Linked DNA regions of Homo sapiens. The protein of the gene in region 3 interacts with the protein of the main gene of each other region in a pairwise test. Each region holds a gene or a part of one and is shown on either strand. Other genes may lie near its edges. The genes, in order: TLK2, ZNF251 and FEZ2.

Region 1 (7,972 bases), on a different chromosome or scaffold from region 3:
ACCTGAAGCAGAGGGACTGTTATGTAGTAGGAGTCATGGGAAAAAAACAAAACTGAACTTGCTGCAACAGTTCTTTCTTAATGAGACTTACATCATGAACTGCCCTGGCTCCAAAGATAAAGGTATTGTTTCTCCAGAGTATTTAATCCAACACGCCCTCCTAAACCCAGTGCTGCTTGGCCAGGACTCTTTTTTCCCACACCTACCCAGGCAATCAAAAGTCAGATGTTATTAGCCTTTCTTGGCTGCTGTGAAATTCTCTAACTTTATCAAATTAAAAGTCACTTATAAGACCAAAGAAAACCCACTAATACTGTCTCCTAAAAGTTAGACATACCTGGTTTGAGGTCATAGTGTATGATGGGAGGTTTTATTTCATTTAAGTACTTTAAAGCATTCACAATCTGCATGATAATGGACCGGGCCTCTTTCTCCGACATTAATTTGTGCTGTTTCAGGTAGAAGTCCAGATCATTTCCCTCACAGTATTCTAATACTGTACAAAACCTAAAGACAAATAAACCAATATTTAACCATGGAATAAGAGCAAGCAGATTAACACTACCTAAATTAGTCCCATGTGAAAACTTCAGGTCATCAGCTTCTCACTCCTTTCTTCTTTGTTCCTTAAAATACTCTTCAATTGTTTATTCAGTATTAGCTGAGGGGTTTCTGGTAAGAAACTGCTTATTCTCTTGAAGAGTTTCCACACCCTCAATGTTGGAATCTGTTGTGCTCAAGTTCACCCATGGCAGACCTCTTCTTGAGTCTAGACTATAAGAATACTGATAAGAACTATAATGTATTTAAGCTAGGTATCTTCTTGGAAGGGGCTCCTTTACACACCCATGCCACACATCCACGTCTAAACAACCAGAATGTGATCAAGTACACAATTCTCTCTTTTTTTTTTTGAGACTCCGTCTCACTCTGCTGCCTAGGCTGGAGTGCAGTGGCGCAATTTTGGCTAGGTACACAATTCGCACTGCAAACATTTTATATAACCCTGAGTGCTGGCAATGAGTAAGAATCTAGAGTTTGCCCACGTCCCAAAAACTGACTGCATACTACGTCTTCTGACAGCTTGGCACAATACTGCACTACAATTTCTCTTAAACACAAGGTGTAAAAGAGCTTGTAAAGTATAGTATCTATGGTTCTAACAAAAGTATGTGGGTTCTCTTTCCTTCCCTTATGTCAATATGTCATACAGACCCATACATAAAACCATATGCCATTGGTGGCATCACAGGTCACGTGTCTATCTTCCAAGGCATTATACTCTGAAGTAAGGTGTCCTGAACTGTTTGAATATTCCTGAGGGATGAATACGTTTTGAAGTTTTCTAAGTTGTGACAATGTGGGTGTATCAGTCAGTTTAGCCTGGAAAAAAAAACCACCTGAACATTTAAAACAGAGAGACTTTAATTCAGGGAACTGATCATACAGATGATGGAAGAGCTGAGAAGACAAACTGGTCAGTGAGGCACCCTAGAGATCATCTACAGCAGGAAGCCATTAGCACCCTCAGGCAAGCAGGCCAGAAGGGAGGAGATGGTGAAACCAGAACCCAGGGTCATCAGGGGAAACTAGAATTGCGGGGAGGGAGAGGAGGTGGAGACCCCCTCCCATTTCTGCCTTCCCATTGGCTGAAACCAACAGAACACCAATGGACACATGGGCCTGATAAACACAGCCTACACGGGCTAACCCCCCAAAGATACAGAGCAGCGAAAGGGCGAGGAACAGAACTGAGAGCAAACAGACTCAGGTCTAGCGCTATGGGCCACTGAGCAATTTGAGGCCTTCATAAAGCACTGCAATTGAACATGGACACACATGGTCCTGTGGACACCACAAACTGAACAATATCTTATGTATCTTAAGAAACATGGCAGGGCATGCTAACACCCTATTTGAAAACAAATGTCTGCTGTAATCCCAGCAATTTGGGAGGCAGAGATGGGTGGATCACTTGAGGCCAGGAGTTTGAGACCAGCCTGGCCAACATAGTGAAACTCTGTCTCTACTAAAAATACAAAAAATTGGCCAGGTATGGTGGCGCATGCCTGTAATCCCAGCTACTTGGGAGGCTGAGGCAGGAGAATTGCTTGAACCCATGAGGTGGAGGTTGCAGTGAGCCAAGATCATGCCACTGCACTACTGCCTGGGCAACAGAGCAAGACTCCATCTCAAATAAAATAAAATTAAAAAAAGAAATGTCTGAAATTTATAGATTCCTCTGATCTGAGATTCTGAAATCTGAAATATAGACTCATGCTCAATGGAATGATTCTTTCACCCAAATGCAAGTTGAAAATAAAGCCTCACTTTCAGCCAGGCGCGGTGGCTCAAGCCTGTAATCCCAGGACTTTGGGAGGCCCAGGCGGGCGGATCACAAGGTCAAGAGTTCAAGACCAGCCTGCCCAGCACGGTGAAACCCTGTCTCTACTAAAAATACAAAAATTAGCCAGGCATGGTGGCGTGCATCTGTAATCCTAGCTACATGGGAGGCTGAGGTAGGAGAATCGCTTGAACCTGGGAGGTGGAGGTTGCAGTGAGCCAAGATCGCACCACTGAACTCCAGCCTGGGCAACAGAGTGAGACTCCATCTCAGGAAAAAAAAAAGGAAAACAACCAAAACAAAAGAAAGAAAAGAAAATAAAGCCTCACTTTTAATACCCAAACAATTCTCAGAAGATGTTCTAAAAATCATGGTCTGACTTATTTTTGGTGAAAATTCATCATACATACAATAGGAAGAACAAAGTAATCAACTCAAGAATAGTATAGAACCAACTCAATTTCTCACATTAGTTAAAAGTGTGTATACAATTCAAAACAGCAGATAATTTGAGCCTGATATTTAACTTTGAAATAGTTCTTGAACTTAATAGTTCAGAGAGGGGGGTCTACCTAGTATTCAAGAAATTTGCTCAAGGCAAAACAGTAATGTCATGCCCCGCCCCTTGTTTCCCAATCCTGCCTTCTAACTAGATCTTTTTAAAAAAATTCCACTCCACGTGAAACACACATGGCTAAGCTCAGTGCCAGGGCTACCCAAATGAGAAGAAATCCCTGAGAGAATGGCCCAGGTCATGTTTCCAAAGGGAATTATAGTCCTCTTTGGGGTTATTTCTAAATGTAAGGCAGCTGTCTGCACAGCCATATCTGAGACTGTTGGCTAGAACAGACCAAAACTCCTAGAATTACCCTGGGAGGCTGAGGGAACCTGAAGTCTAGACCTAGGGTATATTCTGATTCAGTTCAGACTTCTACAGAGAAACATTTCCAAATGCTGAGATATATCCAGCTAAACTGCTGGATAAACCCAGAGGCACGGGAGGTTACCTATACCAAGTAACAAAATATAGCAATGCCCACAATTAATAACTATCTCAGACAAGTTATTTAACTTCTCTGGTCCTCAAAATCCACCTATAAAATGAAAAGGCTGGACTCTGAGATCCCTTCCTATTCTAACATCCTATAAGCCTATGAGCCTGTATTTCAACATGTAGCACTGAGCCTTGTCTTCATTAGTGCCACATTTCTTATCTCAGTCTAGGATAAAATCACACGGCCAGTACTTTTTAAAAAGGTCTGTCAATGTTCATAAGAGTCTCTGGGGTGAGCAGAAACTCTCTTGAACAGTCTACACTCACTAGTGCACGTCAGTGGCATGCTGGCACCAACTCATGCCAGTTTCCAAGAGCTGACTTAAATTTTCAAGAATTTTGTGAGCTGGTTATCAAACCGTTATAAGCAAAATGTGGTATATCCACACAATGGAATATTATTTTGCCATAAAAAGGAATGAAGTACTGACACAGGCTACAAGGATGAAATTTGACAACACCATGGTAAGTGAAAGAAGCCAGTAATAAAAGTCCACATACTATATGATTCCATGCATATGAGGGTCCAGAATAGGAAATCTATAAAGATAAAACAGACAGATTAGGGCTAGGGCAGAGGGATGGAATGGTGGAATAGATGAATAGTAGTAAAAGGTATGATGGGGTTTGAGATGGTGAAAAAATTCTAAAATTGCCTCTGGTGGTTGCATGTATCTATGAATATGCTACAAACCACTAAACTGTATATTTTACATGTGTGAATCATACAGTATGTGAATTATAATTAAGATGTTTAAAAAAAAACAAAAATAAACAGGTGGTACATCAAAATTAGACACAGGAGGAATATCTACACCACGGAAACTGGCAAACACTATAAATTAGCCCTGTCTCTCTTCATACCAAGCTGGCTGTTAAACATTTACTGGCACACAAGTGCACATGTCCTTTGGCCTAGAGGTTTCTTGCTGATCCAAATCTGAATTTATGTTTGATCATTTGTCACAAATTACTTGGTTCCCTCAGAGGGTATGTCCTGGACCCAGAGTTCAGCTCTATTCCATGAACAATCAGCATTGCAAGAAAATAATATAACTGTTAAGGTAAAACAGCACAGCACTTACGAGTCAGTATCCAGTGAAAAGTAATCATACAGCTTAACTATTCTGGGATGATCCAGCTCTTTATGAATCCGGTATTCCCTACATGCATGCCTGTAAACAAAAGGGAAAATTAACAAGAAGGTATATTGGCCTGCCTTTTAGAACTCTTCAAAGATCCTCCTAAATATTCAATCATTTCTCTATTGTCTCCACATGTTAATTCCATTCAGGTCCATCTGGTCCCTCATCTGACTTTTCTCTTTGCTCATCCTATTTTCTCCACTGGAATCTACCAAGCCATTGAGAAAATAATAGGTGCTCTGGCTGGGCGTAGTGGCTCACGCCTGTAATCCCAGCACTTTGGGAGGCCGAGGCAGGTGGATCACGAGGTCAAGAGATGGAGACCATCCTGGCCAACATGGTGAAACCCCGTCTCTACTAAAAATATAAAACTTAGCTGGGCGTAGTGGTGCGCACCTGTGGTCCCAGCTACTCGGGAGGCTGAGGTAGGAGTCACTTGAACCCAGGAGTTGGAGGATGCAGTGAGCTGAGGTCGCGCCACTGCACTCCAGCCTGGTGACAGAGCGAGACTCTATCTCCAAAAATAAAATAAAATAAAATAACAGGTGCTCAAATATTTGTTAAGTGAATGGATGTCAACCCTTTTCATCCCTTTCAAGTTCATTCTATGATAATCACACCTCTTTTCCACGTATACTCAAGTATCATAGATTTTAAAATAACAAGGACGGTTATTTTCCCCCCTCCTCTAAAGCTGATACATCATATCTGTAAATGTATATATGCTCGGGTAACATCAAAGGGGTCATTTTTAGCATGTAAACCCCTTAGGTTAAAGCATTATCTGTTACATAAATCAATTAGCAGTACTTTGTATTTTTTGTTTTTAAATCCTTCTTACAAAAACAATTTAAGTGCTATTAGCTTTACTTTATTCTAATAAAATATGAAATGTGAAATTATGGAACCCCAGTTTTCTTAGAATGGCGAATTTGATACAGTCATCCACTGCAGAACAACCCTTCGGTCAATGATGCTAAGCCACACATATGACGGGGTCCCATAAGAGTATAACAGAGCTTCCCATGAACTGAGGAAGAAAAAAAAAAAAAAAGTACAACAGAGGTGAAAAATTCCTATCACCTGGTAACCCAGCAGTCATGATGTCACCACACAATGCATTACTCGCGCTTGTGGTGATGCTGGTGTAAACAAACCTACTGTGCTGCCAGCCATATTAAAGTCTAGCACCTAACAATTATCTACAGTATATAACACTTGATAATGATAATAAATGAATACATTATTGGTTTATGTATTTACTATACAGCAGGCCCTTAAATAACATCATTTTGTTATAACGCTGATTTAAAAAAAAAAAAAAAAAAAAAGGGGGCCAGGCACGGCAGCTCATGCCTGTAATCCCAGGACTTTGGGAGGCCAAGGCGGGTGGATCACCTGAGGTCGCTGGATCACCTGAGGTCAGGAGTTCGAGACCAGCCTGACCCAACATGGTGAAACCCCGTCTCTACTAAAAATACAAAAATTAGCTGGCCGTGGTGGTGGCCACCTGTAATCCCCACTACTCAAGAGGCTGAAGCAGGAGAATCACTTGAACCTGGGAGGTGGAGGTTGCAGTGAGGCGAGACTGCGCCATGGCACTCTAGCCTGGGTGATAAAGTTAGACTCCGTCTCAAAAAAAAAATCAATTCCTGGTCGGCACCACTGTCCATGTGGAGTCTGTTTGTTCTTCCCCTATCTGTGTGGGTTTTCTCAGGTTATTCTGCTTTCCTCCCACATCCCAAAGGCACATGTGTTGGGTTCACCGGCATACCCACATGGGGTGTGTGTGTGTGTGTGTGTGTGTGTGTGTGTGTGTGTGTGTACCCGCCCTGCAATGGGATGGCATCCTGTCTAGGGTGGCTCCCACCTTGCCCCTGAGCTGCTGATATAGGCTCTGGCCACCCTCAACCCTGAGTGGGGAATGAGTGGGTAAATGTTACCTTGTTTCTATTAAACTTTCTTAAATGTATATAAAGCTCATATACATTTCAACGTTTAGTATTAGAAGTGTTTTAGTCTTTATTTAGAAGCTGGGTAATGTTTTTGTGACCAGGAATATGCCACAGGAACTTAACTCTTGTTTATGTCAATTAGCCTATGGTAAAATTGGTTTTGTTACACCTTGTTTCCCTTAAAGTTGTAGTTTCCAAGAACCTATCACTGCTACTAAGTGAGGGCTTATGTACTGCACTTTTTTTGTTTTTGAGATGGAGTCTCGCTCTGTTGCCAAGGCTGGAGTGCAGTGGCGCGATCACAGCTCACTGTGGTCTTTGCCTTCCAGGTTCAAGCGATTCTCCTGCCTCAGCCTCCCAACTAGCTGGGATTACAGGCACATCCCAGCACGCCCAGCTAATTTTTGTATTTTTAGTAGAGAGGGGGTTTTGCCATGTTGGCCAGGTTGATCTTGAACTCCTGACTTCAAGTGATCCGCCTGCCATGGCCTCCCAAAGTGCTGGGATTACAGGCATGAGCCACGGCACCTGGCCTGCACTGTACTTTTTAATTATTTAAATTTTAGAGAGCAGGGGCGGTGGCTAACGGCTGTAATCCCAGCACTTTGGGAGGCTGAGGCAGGCGGATCACTTGAGGTCAGGAGTTTGAGGCCAGCCTGGCCACCATGGAGAAACTGCGTCTCTACTAAATATACAAAAAGCAGCAGGGAGCGGTGGTGTGCACCTGTAATCCCAGCTATTTGGGAGGCTGGGGCAGGAGAGACGCTTGAACCCAGGAGGCAGAGGTTGAAGTAAGCTGAGATAACACCACTGCACTCCAGCCTGGGCGACAGAGTGAGACTCCATCTCAAAAAAAAAAAAAAAAAAATTTAGAGTGTACCACTTCTACTTATTAAAAAAAAAAAATTAACTACAAAACAGCCTCAGGCGGGTCCTTCGGAGGGTATCCCAGGAAAAGGCATTGTTATCATGGGGGTGAAAGCTTCATGCATGTTATTGGCCCTGAAGAGCTTCCAGTGGGACAAGATGGAGATGGAAGAAAGTGATATTGATGGTCCTGACCCTGTGCAAGCCTAGGCTAATGAGTTGTGTGCCTTAGTTCTTAACAAAAAATGTTTAAAAATAAAAAAAAATTGTAATAGAAAAAAGCTTATAGAATAAGGATACAAGGAAAGAAAATATTTTCATACAACCGTACAATGTGATTTTTTTAAGCTAAGTGTTATTATGAGAGTCAAAAAGGTTAAAAAAAGGCAGTTTCTACAGCAAAAATGTTACAGTAAGTGAAGGTTAATTTATACTTGAAGAAAAAATTTTTAATAAATGTAGTGTAGCCTCTGTGTACAGTGTTTATAAAGTCTACAGTAGTGTACAACAGTATCCTAGACTCTGACTCACCCAGAACAACTTCCAGTTTTGCAAATTCTATTAATGGTACGGGTGTACCATTTTTATACTGTATATTTACTGCACC
Region 2 (8,274 bases), on a different chromosome or scaffold from region 3:
GGAGGCAGGGCGAGATCACAGGACCACAGGACCGAGGCGAAATTAAAATTGCTAATGAAGTTTCGGGCACCATTGTCATTGATAACATCTTATCAGGAGACAGCGTTTTGAGAGCAACCAGTCTCACCAAAATTATTAGGTGGGAATTTCCTCTTCCTAATAAGCCTGGGAGCGCTATGGGAGACTGGAGTCTATCTCATCTCTGCAGTTTCGACCATAAGAGACAGGCGCACCTGGGGGGACTGTTTATAAGCCTATACCTCCAGGTGCGTATTCTCTTTCTCAGGGATGTTCCATGCTGAGAAAAAGAATTCAGCGATATTTCTCCCATTTGCTTTTGAAAGAAGAGAAATATGACTCTGTTCTGCCCGGCTCACTGGAGGTCAGAGCTTAAGGTTATCTCTTATTCCCTGAACAATTGCTGTTATCCTGTTCTTTTTTCAAGGTGCCCACATTTCATATTGCTCAAACACACATGCTCTACAATTTGTGCAGTTAATGCAATTATTACAGGGTCCTGAGGCGACATACATCTTCCTCAGCTGACAGGATTAAGAGATTAAAGTAAAGACAGGCATAGGAAATCGCAAGGGTACTGATTGGGGAAGTGATAAGTGTCCATGAAATGTTTACAATTTATGTTTAGAGATTGCAGTAAAGACAGGCATAAGAAATTATAAAAGTATTAATTTGGGGAACTAATAAATGTCCATAAAATCTTCACAATCCACGTTCTTCTGCCATGGCTTCCGCCGGTCCCTCCGTTTGGGGTCCCTGACTTCCCGCAACAAGGTAGCTCCCGCCCCTCCAGCTTCTTTGTCCTTCCAATCTTCCTGGGATCAGACGGAATGCACTGGGGTCTGCTCTTTGCCATGGCAGAGGCCTCTACATATGACTGGGAGGGTCAGTTTCTCATGACAGTTAGCAGGCGCTTGTGGCTGCAGATGCAAAATCATGGTCCCTAATCGGCTTTATTATTATTTTATTTATTTTATTTTTAGAAATGGGTTCTCACTATGTTGGCCAGGCTGCCTGAATTCTGGTGTTTTTGTACGTGGAAACTGGTGATGCAAGTACTGAATGTACCTCAGGCAGCTGGAGGAAGATACAGACGGATTGCCATCCGTCCCCCAGGTTAAGGATTCCCAATGAAGTCACTCTCTTCCCACCACTCCTCCTGAGAGGGTACGGTGGAAGGAAGGGTCTGAATTTTCCTCCCCAGAATTTCCCAAGACACAGGTATATTTGTCATGAATGTGAGGAGTGAGAACAAGGGCCTGCCCCGGCCCCCAGTCTGATTGCCCTCTCCGGCACTGCTTGCCGTGGGTGTTAGGCCCGCTTAAATTTTTGTTGTTGTTGTTGTGGTTGTTCTTCATGGAGTCTCGCTCTGTCGCCCAGGCTGGAGTGCAATGGTATGATCTCGGCTCACTGCAACCTCCACCTCCCAGGTTCAAGCGATTCTCCTGCCTCAGCCTCCCGAGTAGCTGGGATTACAAGCGTGCACCACCACACCCGGCTAATTTTTTGTAGTTTTAGTAGAGATGGAGTTTCACCACGTTGGCCAGGCTAGTCTCAAACTCCTGACCTCAGTTGATCCGCTCACCTCGGCCTCCCAAAGTGCTGGGATTATAGGCGCGAGCCACCGTGCCCAGCCAATGGGTAAATATGCTGAGTATGTATTTCTAAAGGTTTGAACACAGAAGAAAGGTCTGAGATGGAATTTTTTTAAGTGGGGTAATTTACATGTAAGTAGCAGTTGAAGAAATGAGACAAGGTAAGCTCTCTTAGAGGAAAATGTAGAATAAAGTAAGGAGAATGCGCAGGGCAGACACTGAGTAGAGGAGAAAGTAGCAAAGGAGATTGAGAGTGGTTGGCAGAAAATGAAGGAAGGGTGGTATTATTGATGATAAGGAAATCAAGTGTTCCAAGAAGGACAGACAGTTCATGGTGTCAAATATTGCTGAGAGGTCAAGTAAAGGAAAACTAAAAAATGCCCACTGGTGGCCAGGCACTATGGCTCACACCTGTAATCCCAGCACTTTGGGAGGCCAAAGCAGGTGGATTACTTGAGGTCAGGAGTTTGAGACCAGCCTGGGCAACAGAGCAAGACCCTGTCTCTACCAAAAAAATACAAAAAATTAGCCCGATGTGGTGGCACGCATCTGTGATCCCAACTACTCATAAGGCTGAGGTGGGAGGATTGCTTGAGCCCGGGGAGGTGAAGGTTGCAGTGAGCTGAGATTGTGCTACTGCACTCCAGCCTGGGTAACAGAGAGAGACCTTGTCTCAAAGGAAAAAAAAAGCCCACTGGTTTTAGAAACAGGGAGGTCAGTGGAGTAGGGAACAGCTCTGTTCTGGGCCCTGAGGACCTTGGACATCTTCACATAGCTGTGTGGCAAGGTCCATCACCGTGTGAACTGAGTTTGGCAGAATGCTTGGAGGTTCCTCCTGAAACTAAGGGAGACAAGCAACCTTGTAAGAAACGACAGTGACAGCAGCGCCCCTGGGCCCCTGGTTGGCTGCGTCTGGGATGCTCCCTTTGCCCCTCCTTGGGGTACAGCTGCGGACACACCACTGCCTGGCTGCAGTGTGGAGCTGGCGCCTCAGCAGCACCGTGGCCACCATCTGTGCTTTCTGTCATCTGGCCCCTATGGTTTGCTGTCATCTTGTGTGTCTAGGGACACAGGCTGCTGATCATGCTGTAGCTGTTTGAGTAAGAAATAAACAATCTAGGCTGGGCACAGTGGCACACACCTGTAATCCTAGCACTTTGGGAGGCCGACGCAGGTGGATCACTTGAGGTCAGGAGTTTGCCACCAGCCTGACTAATATGGTGAAACCCCGTCTCTACGAAATACAAAAAAATTAGCTGGACATGGTCCTGCATGCCTGTAATCCGAGCTACTTGTGAAGCTGAGACAGGAGAATCACTTGTACCTGGGAGGTGGAGGTTGCAGTGAGCCAAGATCTCACCATTGCGCTCCAGCGTGGGCAACAAGAGTAAAACTCCACCTCAAAAAAAAGAAAGAAAGAAACAATCTCTATCTTTTGTGCTCATTGCTGATCAAATCCATGTAAATATGGCAAACCAGCCTAGCATCTGTGGCAGTTGACGCCGGTAACCCTGTCAGCTGCTGGATTGCTGCCTAGGGACTGCTTGGATGCTTGGCAGTTGGTAGCCCTGTAAATAGGAAATATCCATTAGGAGAGCCTGCAGCCACCAGTCACAGAGTGATTACACGCCCCCTGTAGGAGATGTGAAAAAGAAAAAGAGGAAATCAAATATTCTGCAATCTTACAACTAGTAATGATGTATTTATTTTCAGCTTTTTATATACGTTTTTCAAGCACTTCCCAAGTATTTATAGAGTACTTACTATGTTCCAGGCTGGTGGCTGAGCAGTGAACAAACCAACCTAGGTCCTTATATCTGGAAACCTTAAGTTTGTGAACTTAAACACCCATATATACAATTGAGATCATATCATAAATATAATTTTGTATTCTATTTTTCACATTCTATTTCATAAGCATTACCCTCTGCCAATACTTTTTTTTCAAATACCACACATAATGGCTGCATAATGTTCAACTGAGTGTACAGAAGACAATAGATTTATCTATTTCTGTGCTGCAAAAAGCATAATTATCTTCCATTTCCCCTTCTATGAATAACTAGCTATTTTCCAAATTCTCCCCATTATTTAAAAAAAACCACACACACAACAAACTCTGGAATGGGCACCCTTCTCTTTGTCATTTTTGTTATTTCCATAGGATAGATTCCTAGATTAATTGAAGTGTTTAAGGCTCTTTATGTACAGCTTAATTCATTTTCAACATTGTACTAAACACGCTTCCTCAAGCATAGCAGTGCGTAATTCTCCACAATCTCCCCAGCACTGATATTAATAATGTAAGGCATCTTCTTAATCATGTGTGACTTTGCATGGTGCTTTAGACTTCTAGACATTCTCCATCCTCGTTGATCGTCTCAAGTTCAGATATAAAATTTCTGCCTTGATTCTAACACAGTGTACAGGGCCTACACTATATTCTGGGTGACAAGATGGCTTGGCTTTCCTTTCCTTCTCCCCCTGCTCCTAAGCTGGTCTCCTCACCTTTATCAAGTGCTATTTTTTCAACCATGCTTTATTGTGTAGGGGCCAAAGGGAAAGTTCCTCTTTGCCCTCTGAAGGTTCACTGAAAGCCAACTCATAAAAGGCAGATTTTTGGAGAAAAGGCAAATAAATGGATTATTTATTTATTTATTATTTATTTTTGAGATGGAGTCTCGCTCTGTCACCCAGGCTGGAGTGCAGTGGCGCGATCTCGGCTCACTGCAACCTCCGCCTCCCGGGTTCAAGCGATTCTCCCGCCTCAGCCTCCGGAGTAGCTGGGACTACAGACGCCCGCCACCACGCCCGGCCTTTACCGCCAGTTTTCACACAGAAAAGCGGGGGGAACATCAGAGTCGTGTTTTTAGGTTTTGTGGCTGGCTTTGGGGGTCTGGCCTCTGGGACTCGCCTTGGGTAAAAGGGATTCACTCTGTGAGGAGCCTCGCGGGAGAAAAGAACTGAGACTGGAGGCCTGGGAAGGTCAGAGGGAAACTGCCTCCCAGGCCTTCATTTTGGGGCGTTGTGTTCTGAGCCCCGATAATTGTAACATCTTCATAAGCGACTTTCTGGTGGTTATGGTGAATCGGGACACACGATGTATGGTGACCGACGGGGGAGCCGGGAGCCCAGCGGGGTTAGGGTTCAGGTGAGGGTTTAGGGTCGGGGCGAGCGCGGCGCGGCCCGGATGCGCAGCGTCACCGCGCCAGACCCTCCGCTCAGCTGCCGTGGGCTCTCCCCCTCCCCGACCATAGACGGCGCAGGCCTCCAGTCATCCCAGAGCGGCCCCGGAAGAATCCGGGCGGAACCGCGGCTGGCTTCCGGTTCCCGGCGTTCTCGGAGGCGTACTGAGGCCCCGCAGGGGGCGGGGAAGCCTGCGTGTGCGCAGCTCGGCCCGGCCCGCCCTCTTCATCCTAGCCCGCCCCCTCCCCGGCTCTGGACCCGGTTCTGTGGGAGGGTCCGTTCCGGGCTCGGTGCGACTGCGCAGCTCCTCGGCGCTTCCTCGGTGGCTTCCCCGGGTCGAGCAAACAGGTGGGGCAGTGTCGGACCAGGAAGGAGCGCCAAGCGGGCAGGCAGGCGGGGAGGGCGCGGGGAGGGCGCGGGGAGGCGGCGGCCAGTCCAGGAGGAGCCTGTTCTGGGTGCCGCGGGAGCCACCGACGGGCTGCAGAGGCCGGGAGGAGGCGACCGCGGCGCGGCCCTAGAAGGCTGGACTGAGGACCACAGCTGGCTTCCGGCCTCTCCCCGGAGCCTGGGGCCTTCGGCAGCATCCCCGCGGCCTCCTTCTCACGTCCTCAGCCTTGGTGAGGCTGCACCCTCACGTGGCTCTTTGCCCCAGGTTGGCCAGGCAGGTAGAACGGCCCTGCACCCCATTTCCAGGGCCTTCAGCAGGTCTGGACCACGGGAACTGCCAGCTTTCACCCCTTAGCCGGGCGTCCCTGGATCCCCCCGGGCTCTGGCTCTGGCCGTTCTGGGATTTCAGGAGTCACTGAGCAGTAGGGCACGTCGGCCCGTGCTGCATAGTGACCTGCCTCCCGCGACCCAGGAGGCCACAGCAGCAATCAGCTTCTGCCTCCTGGCCATCCTTCCACACCCCTGGTTGAATGGGGCTGAGCCTGAGTTCTCCCCACTGAAGGTAAGTTCGGGGAGACTTCAGGCCAGGGCAGTCTCCTGTCTTCTCTTGGAAACCACAGCAGCCCATGCACACAGAATGGCAGCCACATTCCAGCTTCCAGGGCACCAGGTGAGTTAACCCTCCTTCCTGCCCACCTCTTCATCTTCATCCCCATCCCAGTCAGAAGCTACTCTCCTCTGGAGCCGTGAGCCCGGCAACTGGTAAGGCCAGCCAGGGGCTCATAGCAACCGTGAGGAAAGGGTTCTGAGAGGTAGACTCGCCCTCCTGCAGGGAGAGGGGCTCTGAGCTCAGCTGGGTCCCCGTGTAGCTGAAGTTGGCTGGTCCTCAGCGCTCTCAGCTGCCCCATCAGGGACCTGCTGATACACAGTTCATACTGACCACAGCAGGGCCCTGGGTAGTGGGGCCCCACCAGGTCAGGGCCCTTTTAGTGCAGGCTGCTGCCCCGTGGGCATGGCCTGGGCAGCGGCGATGTTTTGTTGCAGGAGATGCCGCTGACCTTCCAGGATGTGGCCGTGTACTTCTCTCAGGCGGAGGGGCGGCAGCTGGGCCCCCAGCAGCGGGCGCTCTACCGGGATGTGATGCTGGAGAACTATGGGAACGTGGCCTCTCTGGGTGAGGCTCTCTGCACTTGGCCTGGTTCGCAGTGGGGGCCTCTGAGGAGCTTGGGAGGCTGCTTTGGCTCTTTGGATCCCAAAGAAGAGGGTCCTGCCCCTTGTCCCCGGGTATCAGTCTGATCTCTACAGAAGGAACATTTCCCATGGGAAAAGCCTGCCTTGCTCCCCAGTTCTAGGGACTTCACTCCCTGTTGCCAGTGGCCCCACTGGTGTCCCTCCAGTGGCAGGAGAGCTGATGAGTGGATTCTCCTTCAGTACTTAGTCTCAGCCCACGGGCCCCCTGACCAACACACGTGCAGGCGTACACACGTGCACACAGGGCCCATCTCTCCACACCTGGCCTGGAAGGCCCAGTGGGCCATGCCAGCTCACCAGTGTCCTCATCCTCAACAGGATTCCCTGTCCCTAAGCCGGAGTTGATCTCCCAGCTGGAGCAGGGGAAGGAACTTTGGGTCCTGAATCTTCTGGGAGCTGAGGAACCAGATATCTTGAAAAGCTGCCAGAAAGGTGAGAATGGATGGGATGCTAATCCTGGGAGCAGCCTCCCAATCCTGCCTTAAGAGGCTCCAAGCGAGGGACAGCTGGGGCATGGCGTTCATATTAATGGCCTCCCCCAGGGGCAGTCTCACAGATACAGCCCCTCTACAAATGTGAGCATGTGCACATGCTTTAGAAGTTTTATCTTGCTGGTCTGTTTCTTTGCTTTAAAAATATATATATACTACTTCTGATCATATTTTTGTTTTGGTGATTTACCTTGATAACAACTTCATTCCCTTCTTTATAATACACTTATTTCCTTTTGACAATAGATATCGGTACCCTACCATGTCCTTTTTATTCTTCACTCCATTCTCTCCTTCATTTGCCAAGTTTAGTCAGTAGTAGTCTTTTTTTTTTTTTTTTTTTTTTTTTCGAGACAGAATCTCACTCTGTCACCAGGCTGGAGTGCAGTGGCACGATCTCGGCTCACTGCAACCTCCACGTACCAGGCTCAGGCAATCCTCCCACCTCAGCTTTCCAAGTAGCTAGGACTACAGGCACATGTCACCATACCTGGCTAGTTTTTTTTTTATTTTTGTTGAGACAAGGTTTCACCACGTTGCCCAAACTGGTCTTAAATTCTTGAGATCAAGTGATCCATGTCGACCTCCCAAAGTGCTGAGATTACAAGCATGAGCCACTGCACCTGACCAGTGGCTTTTTTTAATGTTTACCTTTGTTCTATTGAATATACATCTACTACTTGATATGTCAGCTGTAAGTATTATCTTTGACTGCCAGCTACTGAGACAGTCAACAAGCTTGTTCTACTTTTCTCCCTTTTCCTCCTCATTCCTTTCCCAGTTTTTGTTGGTTATATTGTTTCTACACTGTCAGAACATATAACACTTTACAACTCATATCCGCAGCTTTGTTACTGGCTTATATCTCCAGTTAAGTATGTTATTAATAATTGTTTATCTCTGGTCCTTTTACCAAAAATTTCCCCATCTCTTGGTTGGCTGGAGCTTGTCTTCTAGTTTATTCAGAAAGGCTCGTGAAAAATATACCCCATATTTGTGCACATTCAAAATTGGTTGAATAAAGCATTTGGTTTCTACATGTAAGAGCTAAGATTGTAAAATTATATCGTTTTCTCAAAGTGCAGCTTAAGTTGCATCTCACAAAATTTTAATATGTTGTATTTTCATTAACATTTAGTTCAAAATGTTATCTAGTTTTTCTTGTGACTTCTTCTTTGACCCAATGATTATTTGGACATGCATTAATTTCCAGATAGTTGGTGTTTTCCTAGTTATCTTATTGTTATTGTCATTTAATTCCACTGTGGTCAGAGAACATACTCTGTATTATTTCATTCCTTTCATATTTGTTGCTTCTTGTTTTATGACCCCAAATGTGGTCTCTC
Region 3 (7,972 bases):
TGCAGTTTAGATAAGAAAGCCATAAAAACAAATGGGCATACTGTCAGTTAATGAGAAATACAACTGCACATGCACAATTAATATTACTCTCTCTTAATCTACTAAGAGAACAGTTTATTAGTAGATTTAACAAAAACCATCTCTAGAATTCAAAATAGTGCCCATATTTCCGTTGGTTCTATAATATAAAGAATTAGTGTAGTCAAGATCTGTTAATACTGAATCAAACCCAAGTTCAAATGTGCTGAGTTTCCAATAGCAAGAAGGGTAATGGTAGCCAGCTCTCAGAATAATGCTGTCGGAAATCTAGCTTGGAGCCCACCGCAGATAAAGTTGCTGCTCTATGTAGGACACAGAACTAGAAGAAAAAGAGAACTTTTAGCTACAAATGTATATTTTGTATACATTTACACAAAACATACATTTTACATGTACATTTAAAAACCATTAAGTAATGAGAACTAAATGTTAATGCAAAGATCTATGTAGCAATTTTTTAAAGGTTTTAAGAGGCTATACCCAACAAGGATGAGTTCTCTCAACACACATTAGAATTTCCCAGAAATGAGATACCAAAAGGCCATGTCTCTTAGGGTGCCACTTGGAGATAGAAGCCCCTAACATTCGCCCTATACCATGAGGCTTGTGACACAACAAACAGGATCCCTAGGGAAGTCAAAGAAGGGTGCAAGTTTCTGCACACATTTTTATTCCTAACTAGCAGCACGGCAGCAGCCACGCGTACATTACTTCAGAATCAGCCTTGGGTACTACTGTCAAGGCAGCAGTGGCGGCAGGCTGCAGTGGGGTCATTAGGCAGGTGCGAGAAAGAGAAGCTCAATTAGCCCATACAGTGCCCACCCTACTCCCTTTTCTCAGGCCAAATGAGACCACTTTTCTACCTTCTTTCACTTCTGACATTTGCATTAAAACTAAGTGGTGTATTTAGGCAGCCAAGCCACACTCTCATCTGTGTTAAAACAACAACAAACCACCCAAAAAAGGGGAAGGAGTATTCTCCCCTTGAGCAATATCCCCCTCCCGGGCAAAGTGTCGTATTATTGGTCCCCAAGGAAGAGGAACAGTTAACCAGCTGTGAACTTTCAGGATGGGTGGAAAAGAGCATTTTCAATGACCCGACTTCCCCACCTTCCCACACACATTTGGGTAAATACATCTCCACATTGCACTCCCGTCTTCATTTTCTCTGACTACAGTCTCCACTGTAGTCTAAATCCTTGCTGCTTTTCCACCCAGTCCTCACAATACAAAGCCAAGACAAAACCACAACACATGCACACAGACAGCTCATCAGAAGCAGGTACAGTATAGATAGAACTGGGCTTACAGACAGGAGCCAGCGGCCCGAGCATGAGGAGCAGAATTAGATGGGTGCTGCTTCCCTAAGGCATGCGGTATAGGTAGGTTCACAATTATAGTCCTAGGTTTTCAGAGTAAAGAATTAAAAATCATTTTTCCCCAGAGGACTCTGTTCTTTGGGTCATAACATCCTTCCATGCAGTTAAATGCTAAAATAGCTAGAGAATGCTTCAGAAGCTCATTCTATCTCTGGCCCTCATAGAGGCCTAGGAACCCGATATAATTAAAATTTAAGACATGTTCTTTATGTTCGTCTCATTCCTGTTTCACATCTAGAAGAACGAACCTCAGAACAATCCAGCTTTCATACCAATGCTAGCACAACACAAAAGCAAACAAAGATGTCAGGTATTAAAAAAAAAATTTTTCAGAATTTTATAGGGAGAAAAAGTCCTCCATCAGAAAAAAAGCTTATTTTTTAAAATGATGTCAACTCAGTCTGTTCTACTCCAGTGTCAACCCACTAGTGTCTAGCTCATGCTTCTTACTCTCACCGCATCAAGACTCTTACAAGTGAAATGTGTGATTCACTTTGAGCACCCTGTGTATACTACTGAGGTTCCCCTTTCATGACACTATGGTTTAAGAAAAGACCATCAGAGGTTTCTAATGTCTCAGAAATCTTCATCTTCCTTGTGCTCAGCTAACTTTAATGGAGAAGAGAGAGAACCCAGAGAAGAAGACTGTTACTAGAAGAGGATTGCTCTCAAAATTTGATCAAACACTACAAAGATGCATTTTGTGATGCTTTCAAAATCTGGTCCCTGAATACCTGCTACTTTAAAAAAATATTTCATCGTAAAGTATTAATTTTGCCTCTAATTAAGTTCTTCCGTCCCTTCTTTATCATCCAAACTTTGCTCTTTTCTCGGCAAAGCAACTCAACCTCTCACTCTTCTTTTGCCTCATCAATATTCCCACCCTGTGTGAGCCTCACCTTGCCTCTAAGATTTGTGGCTGCTTTTTCACTTTCCTGGGTTTATGCAAGTCCATTCTTTTTATTTCCCCGCTTCCCTCCCTGTGTCTTACATCAGTCCCTTTCGTATTCCCTTTGGCACTGTTCACAGATGTGACTCTTCCTTCCTTCATCCGTCCTCACTAATGATCTGTCCTCCTTTCCACTGTCCTCAAGATGACAGAGACCACCCTTCTCAAATTTCCCAGTGCCAATCTGCCAACATCTGATACCCACATGATTATGGTGCCATCTCACTAATTTTCTTCTACTACCTCTCTTGATGTTTATAGTTTAACTGTGGAGATTATTTCCAACCCAGAACCTCCAATAAAACTTAAATTATATAAAACCATGATATATAATGTTGGTAGAAGTCAGTCATGTAGCTAATCCTCACCCTGCATAATAAGATTAATGAAAGTTGTGCATTGGGAAGTTACTGTCTAATGTATTAGCAAGGCGATGTATTTACTGACTAATCCAAACCTCCCAGCCATCGCACCTATACCATTATAAAACTCACCTTTCAGAATATAATCAGTTAACAAGCTCGGAACTTTTTCACTGTCCTCCTTCATGGCACGAAGAACTGCAAAATAGAAGAGGGGAAAAAAGACAACAATTAAAAATTTAGATCAAAAATATTATTTAATTTCAATCATTGTGGCCTTAATCTTCCTTAATTATAGGATATAACTGACTCATACAAATTATAGGTGATTTTCCTGATAAGGGGATACAACAATAAAGGCCCAATAATTTATTTTAGTGGAGTAAGTCCACAAGAATTTATTTTCGGTAAGAATATCCCACTTACCTGAGAGTTGCTTCCCTGATTTAAAATTTCCAAACAGTGGAGACAAAAAAAGAGGAACTGGGTTATTTACAAGGAGCCTTCGCTCTGTAATAATACCGGAAAGTGGGTTACTATAATGTGCACCTCAATGAACTCTGTGCAGCAAGAAAACCTCAGTGCTGCAGATCAAGCAAACTAGAGAAACTCTTAAAGAAATGGACAGCTATACCCTCCAACAAGCGTATCCTGTCAGACTCCTTAGAAACTTTCAAAGAAAAGACCCAAATGAAGAACAGACTTCCATGAAGCAGCATCGGGCATCTGCCTGGCTGTTGCCTCCTCTGCACTAGGGAGAAACCTGGGAGAATTAGCCTCATTCTAATTTGACAAATTTATCTTCTAAGTAAAAACTAAAATAGAAAAAGCAGCCACCTAGTATAACGTTTTTCTTTTTTAAGCTAGACCATTCAGGTTGAGATAAACTCACAAATATTATACTTTAACAGAGATTGCCAACTCAAATTTTCTCCAAAGCATCCTGGTAAAAATATTTCACTGTTTTTCCCCACCAATACGACAAGGCAAAATAGTGTAACTGTCAAATCAGCCTTCCTGGGTTTAAACCCTGGCTCTGCCACTTCCTAATTGTGTGACGCTGAGCAAGCTACTTAACCACTTTTGCACCAAGCTCTTCATCTGTGAAATGAGAATAATAATTAGATTTAATCTCAAAGGTTTGTTATGAGGACTAAGCTACTAATTCAGATATAAAGGTCATATCATAGTGCCTGGCACATAGTACATGCTATGTATTAACTGTAACTAACACTACTCAAATTATTTAAATTTTTATTAACTATTATTATTGCACCCAAAATCCCCTAATAGCTTTTATCAGGAAGACTATATATCCATAAACACTGTGACTGTCTCCACAGGGCTCTTCTTTTGGAAAGAAAAGGAGCTTTGGACCCAAATATGTCCAGAGATTCCAAACTGTGACAACCTATAAAGACATCTCGATGCTGGAATTATGATGACTTTAGTTTGACCAATGAAGTATTTGTTCTTGATCTGAGAAGCTGAGGCCTGCCAGTAATTCCTGGCTTATGAGCAATATTTATGTTCCCTTCTTTAGAGGGCTACCATGTTCAGTATTTCTGCTTCCAATCATGTTTAAAATTTTTTCTAACTTCTAAATAAAATCACATACCAAAAACCAGCATCATTAAAAGTATAATTGCCTGGGAATTAAGAGATCCAGCTCTGTAACTAACCATCCCCCTGTGTGATCTTGGACACATATAACTTAAGTTCTTCCTGAAAATAAGAGGGCTAGCTACCCAGTTAATCTCTTGATTTTTTATTTCAGACTGGCTGGCATCACTTGATTTATCCATATTTAAATATAAAATTTTTAAAGAATTATTCACCAAAGGAAAGAATAAAAGCTCCAAGTTAGCAGGCAGGGAGCTAAGAAATAAGACACTTGCTTCTACTCTTAGGTTTTCCTTGCCCATTCCTCTTAAATTTCCAAAATAAGTATCATCATCCATACTCATCCATGTGATGCTCTTTCATTTGGTTCCCCCCTAATTAGCAAGTATCATAAATATTTACCATAACAAAGACCTAACAGATCAGCAAATTCAATCCCTCCATTTTAACGGCTAATTGATAGTAACTTAGCCAAAATCATACATATATTAATCTATTTACTGTGAGGTAAATAGAACAAATATTTTTTATCCTAGTTTTTCAATGTAAGCAAAAGAGAGTAAGTAACTTCCAAGGATATCCCTGAAAATAACAGGGATAGAACCAGAATTCAAGGCTCATTTGCGGCCATCATAAGAGATACTCAATATCATGTATATTTAAATCTAACAATTTTTTTTTTAAGGCAAGCCCCTTGAAGGTGCATTATCTTTGTCTGCTTTGTTCACTAAAGTATCCCAAGTGCCCAGATCATGGCCTGGTACAGAGTAGGCCTTCACTAAATATTTGCTGAATGAATGCATGTTCTTAAAACATCACTGTCAATTTATGTTCTACCTATAACTACTACCTCGGGTTCTACATTCATAAGAAATAAAAAGTGTTTACCGTAAATCTTTCCTATTCAGTTACTGACAATCATAGATATATAAGATCCATAAGGAATTTTATTTATGATAAATGGATATGTTCTTAAACATGTAAGAGATGATGGAGATTTAGGTTATGCTTTTTCCCAAAATTTTAGCTCATAAATATTTCACAAGGTAAGAAAAACAGAAAAAGTACAAATCAACACTAGAGTTACTGTTGTATTTAATGTCACAGCCATTTTTGGCTTCATTCTTATAAAAATAAACAATTATATGCATCATTTACATCCTAAACTGACAAAACACTAACAACAAAATCAGCCAACTAAAGTCAGGTGTTTACCAATCAGCAAAAGGAAATCAGGTAATAGTTTCATTTTGTCTTTGCTCACTTTTTGTTAATATTTGAAGATCTTCAACAGACGGTGGTCCGTTTTTTTTCTCATAAGGAATGACTGTAGTCAAATACTGCCAAGTTTAAAAAAAAAAAGTGTCACTTAAATCGGAATTACCTTATCTGCAAAAAATTTGATACTGTTACTAGAAGGTCTATCTGATAATATAAAACACAAGCTACTTTGGTAATGAAAACACAGGTATTGTATGGGAATAAAGTTATCTTACTATCTCAGATGGAGCTCATTTTTTTTTGCCCACCTCTATTTGCTTCATACAAACCTAATGTCAACAGAAACAACCACCTTTTTGCATTTCAGTTATTGAAAATTTCATAGGACTAAGTCTGAGGATGGTTTACTCAATTTGTTCATTTTTAAAGTGAAGTATTATCTCACATTCTACTTGCATATTTTTCAACACATTTTAAAAATAGCAATTTAAACTAAAAACATAGTTTTAACAGTTCTGCACAATAAAGTAATTTCCAACAGCAAAATAATTCTGTTTCAGACCATTTTTATTCTGGTTGAACAAATGGTCCACATATATAACATGACAACTTTGAAAAACACACACTAGCTTCTTTCAGAAGCTAACAAAGACACACTTAAATCGTTTTAGAAATGCGTTACTATTATTTTAAATTATTGGGTAAGTCATTGTAAACGTTTTTAGGCATTAAAGGAGAAAAGTTAAAGTAGAGAATGGCCTAAGGGGAAATGAATAATGAAAATTAATGTCTGAAATTGAGATAAACTTCCTAGTTCACTACTTGTAAAGGCTCACAAGTAACAGCGCCATGTCTTTTAACTAATCCCATGAAAGCATAATCCATAAATGATTGTCCAGATTTTCCTGTTCTTACCATCCCACCAAAAAAATAGTTCCGTGCATTTCACATATGCTCATATAGAAAGCCAGTGGTTTTTACCTGGAATCTCTTAGCTCCACCCATTATTTAACCTCGTGCCCTAAATCTCAGCTCTGTGGCTAATCCTCACTGAGTGATCTTATCCTGCCCATAACTGAAAAACAGGATAAAGAAAGCTGCTTTACAGTAACTGGATCCCTAAGTCCAGAAAAGTGGTAAAACTGCATAGTTCAATCTCTGAGACACGTTAAGTGTCCCACCGTCTTTTTGACGTAGACTTCTTGCAGGTGATGCCCAATTGTATAATCGAATGTTTCTTTGTAAAGAACAACAACAACAAAAGGCCAGAAATGATGTCCTCCTGGCTTCACTCTGCATGTGTGAGGCAACCTGGAGAGGCACCAGGCGGCTGCACCCTGGCCCGCTCTCTGGCTACCTGGCTGCATCTTCAGGCCTCCCTGCTCCACTGACAGTCTGGAAGATTCCTTGTCTTCTTTTGAGGTTGAGAGAGGTGAGAGGCAACGGAATGAAAACAAAAACTCAAACATCCCTTCATGGAGCTCATTGATGAGCTGCAAATGTCAGTGTGAGGCTTCCCTCTTTAATAGGAATGATCTCCCTTCCGGAGAAACACTTAACTACCTGCAGTAAAAACTCCAGGCATTTGATCTAGGCGTTCTTTTGCTAAACTTCCTACAAGCTACATTTTGTACACCTTCTTAATCTGCACAGAAGAGCTAACTTAAAGACTTTTCTTTTTCAAGGTGAAAATTTCATATAGTGAAAGGTAATTTTAAGCATACCCATTAATGTGAATGTTTCCCATGTTCATGATATTCCTTCAATCATTATACAAAAATGTGAATAAAAAGCAAATTGCTAGATACTTGATTATATATTCATATCTGTGTATAATTTTGTATAAATAATGTCGCATGCCTCGTTTGGCAGACAACTGAGTTGGCTGACTATGCAATACACCTTAAAAACACATGAATTTCATTTAAAGGAGGTAAGATACACTCTATACATATTTTTGACCTAGAACTCTAGTCTCAAACATACCGACATCTGGCCTTCTTCCCCCAAAAATGACATCTTGCGACTTAGACTTTTAGAATTAGAGTCACATATTTTAGTTTAGTTATTTTCACAAGCAGATTTTCTACACATGCAATACATTATGTTAAAATGTTAATATTTGTTTAAAACTAAGAGTGAAAAATGGAGCTATAAAACACGTCTTAAGAATGCATTTAATCTATTGTCGAATTTGAAAAATGCTTTTTCCTCAAAGGGAAATTCTGTTCATTATCAAGACTATAAATATAATGAACTTTTATAATAAACTTTTATTTCTCTCGTTAAGCAATGGTCTTAGTAAATTAGTAAACTACCAGCTTTCAGGATCTTCACTTACACAGAAAATGAAAAAGCAGAGAATGAGGAAAATAAGGATAACCGAGCACCTGTTTCTC

Evidence for each region.
Region 1: the proteins of FEZ2 (region 3) and TLK2 interact in a two-hybrid assay, tested with the Homo sapiens proteins (one study listed by BioGRID).
Region 2: the proteins of FEZ2 (region 3) and ZNF251 interact in a two-hybrid assay, tested with the Homo sapiens proteins (one study listed by BioGRID).

The regions. Positions count from the first base shown.
Region 1 is NC_000017.11:62,593,186-62,601,157, reverse strand, and holds part of TLK2 (serine/threonine-protein kinase tousled-like 2), read right to left. Parts: intron 4,574-7,972; coding exon 4,484-4,573; intron 508-4,483; coding exon 338-507; intron 1-337. UniProt on the Homo sapiens protein: Serine/threonine-protein kinase involved in the process of chromatin assembly and probably also DNA replication, transcription, repair, and chromosome segregation. Phosphorylates the chromatin assembly factors ASF1A and ASF1B.
Region 2 is NC_000008.11:144,752,278-144,760,551, reverse strand, and holds the start of ZNF251 (zinc finger protein 251), read left to right. Parts: upstream 1-5,020; 5' UTR 5,021-5,147; intron 5,148-5,175; exon of another isoform or gene 5,176-5,748; 5' UTR 5,749-5,823; coding exon 5,824-5,856; intron 5,857-6,230; coding exon 6,231-6,360; intron 6,361-6,755; coding exon 6,756-6,869; intron 6,870-8,274. UniProt on the Homo sapiens protein: May be involved in transcriptional regulation.
Region 3 is NC_000002.12:36,552,822-36,560,793, forward strand, and holds part of FEZ2 (fasciculation and elongation protein zeta-2), read right to left. Parts: coding exon of another isoform or gene 7,964-7,972; intron 5,693-7,963; coding exon 5,617-5,692; intron 2,928-5,616; coding exon 2,862-2,927; intron 359-2,861; coding exon 342-358; 3' UTR 1-341. UniProt on the Homo sapiens protein: Involved in axonal outgrowth and fasciculation.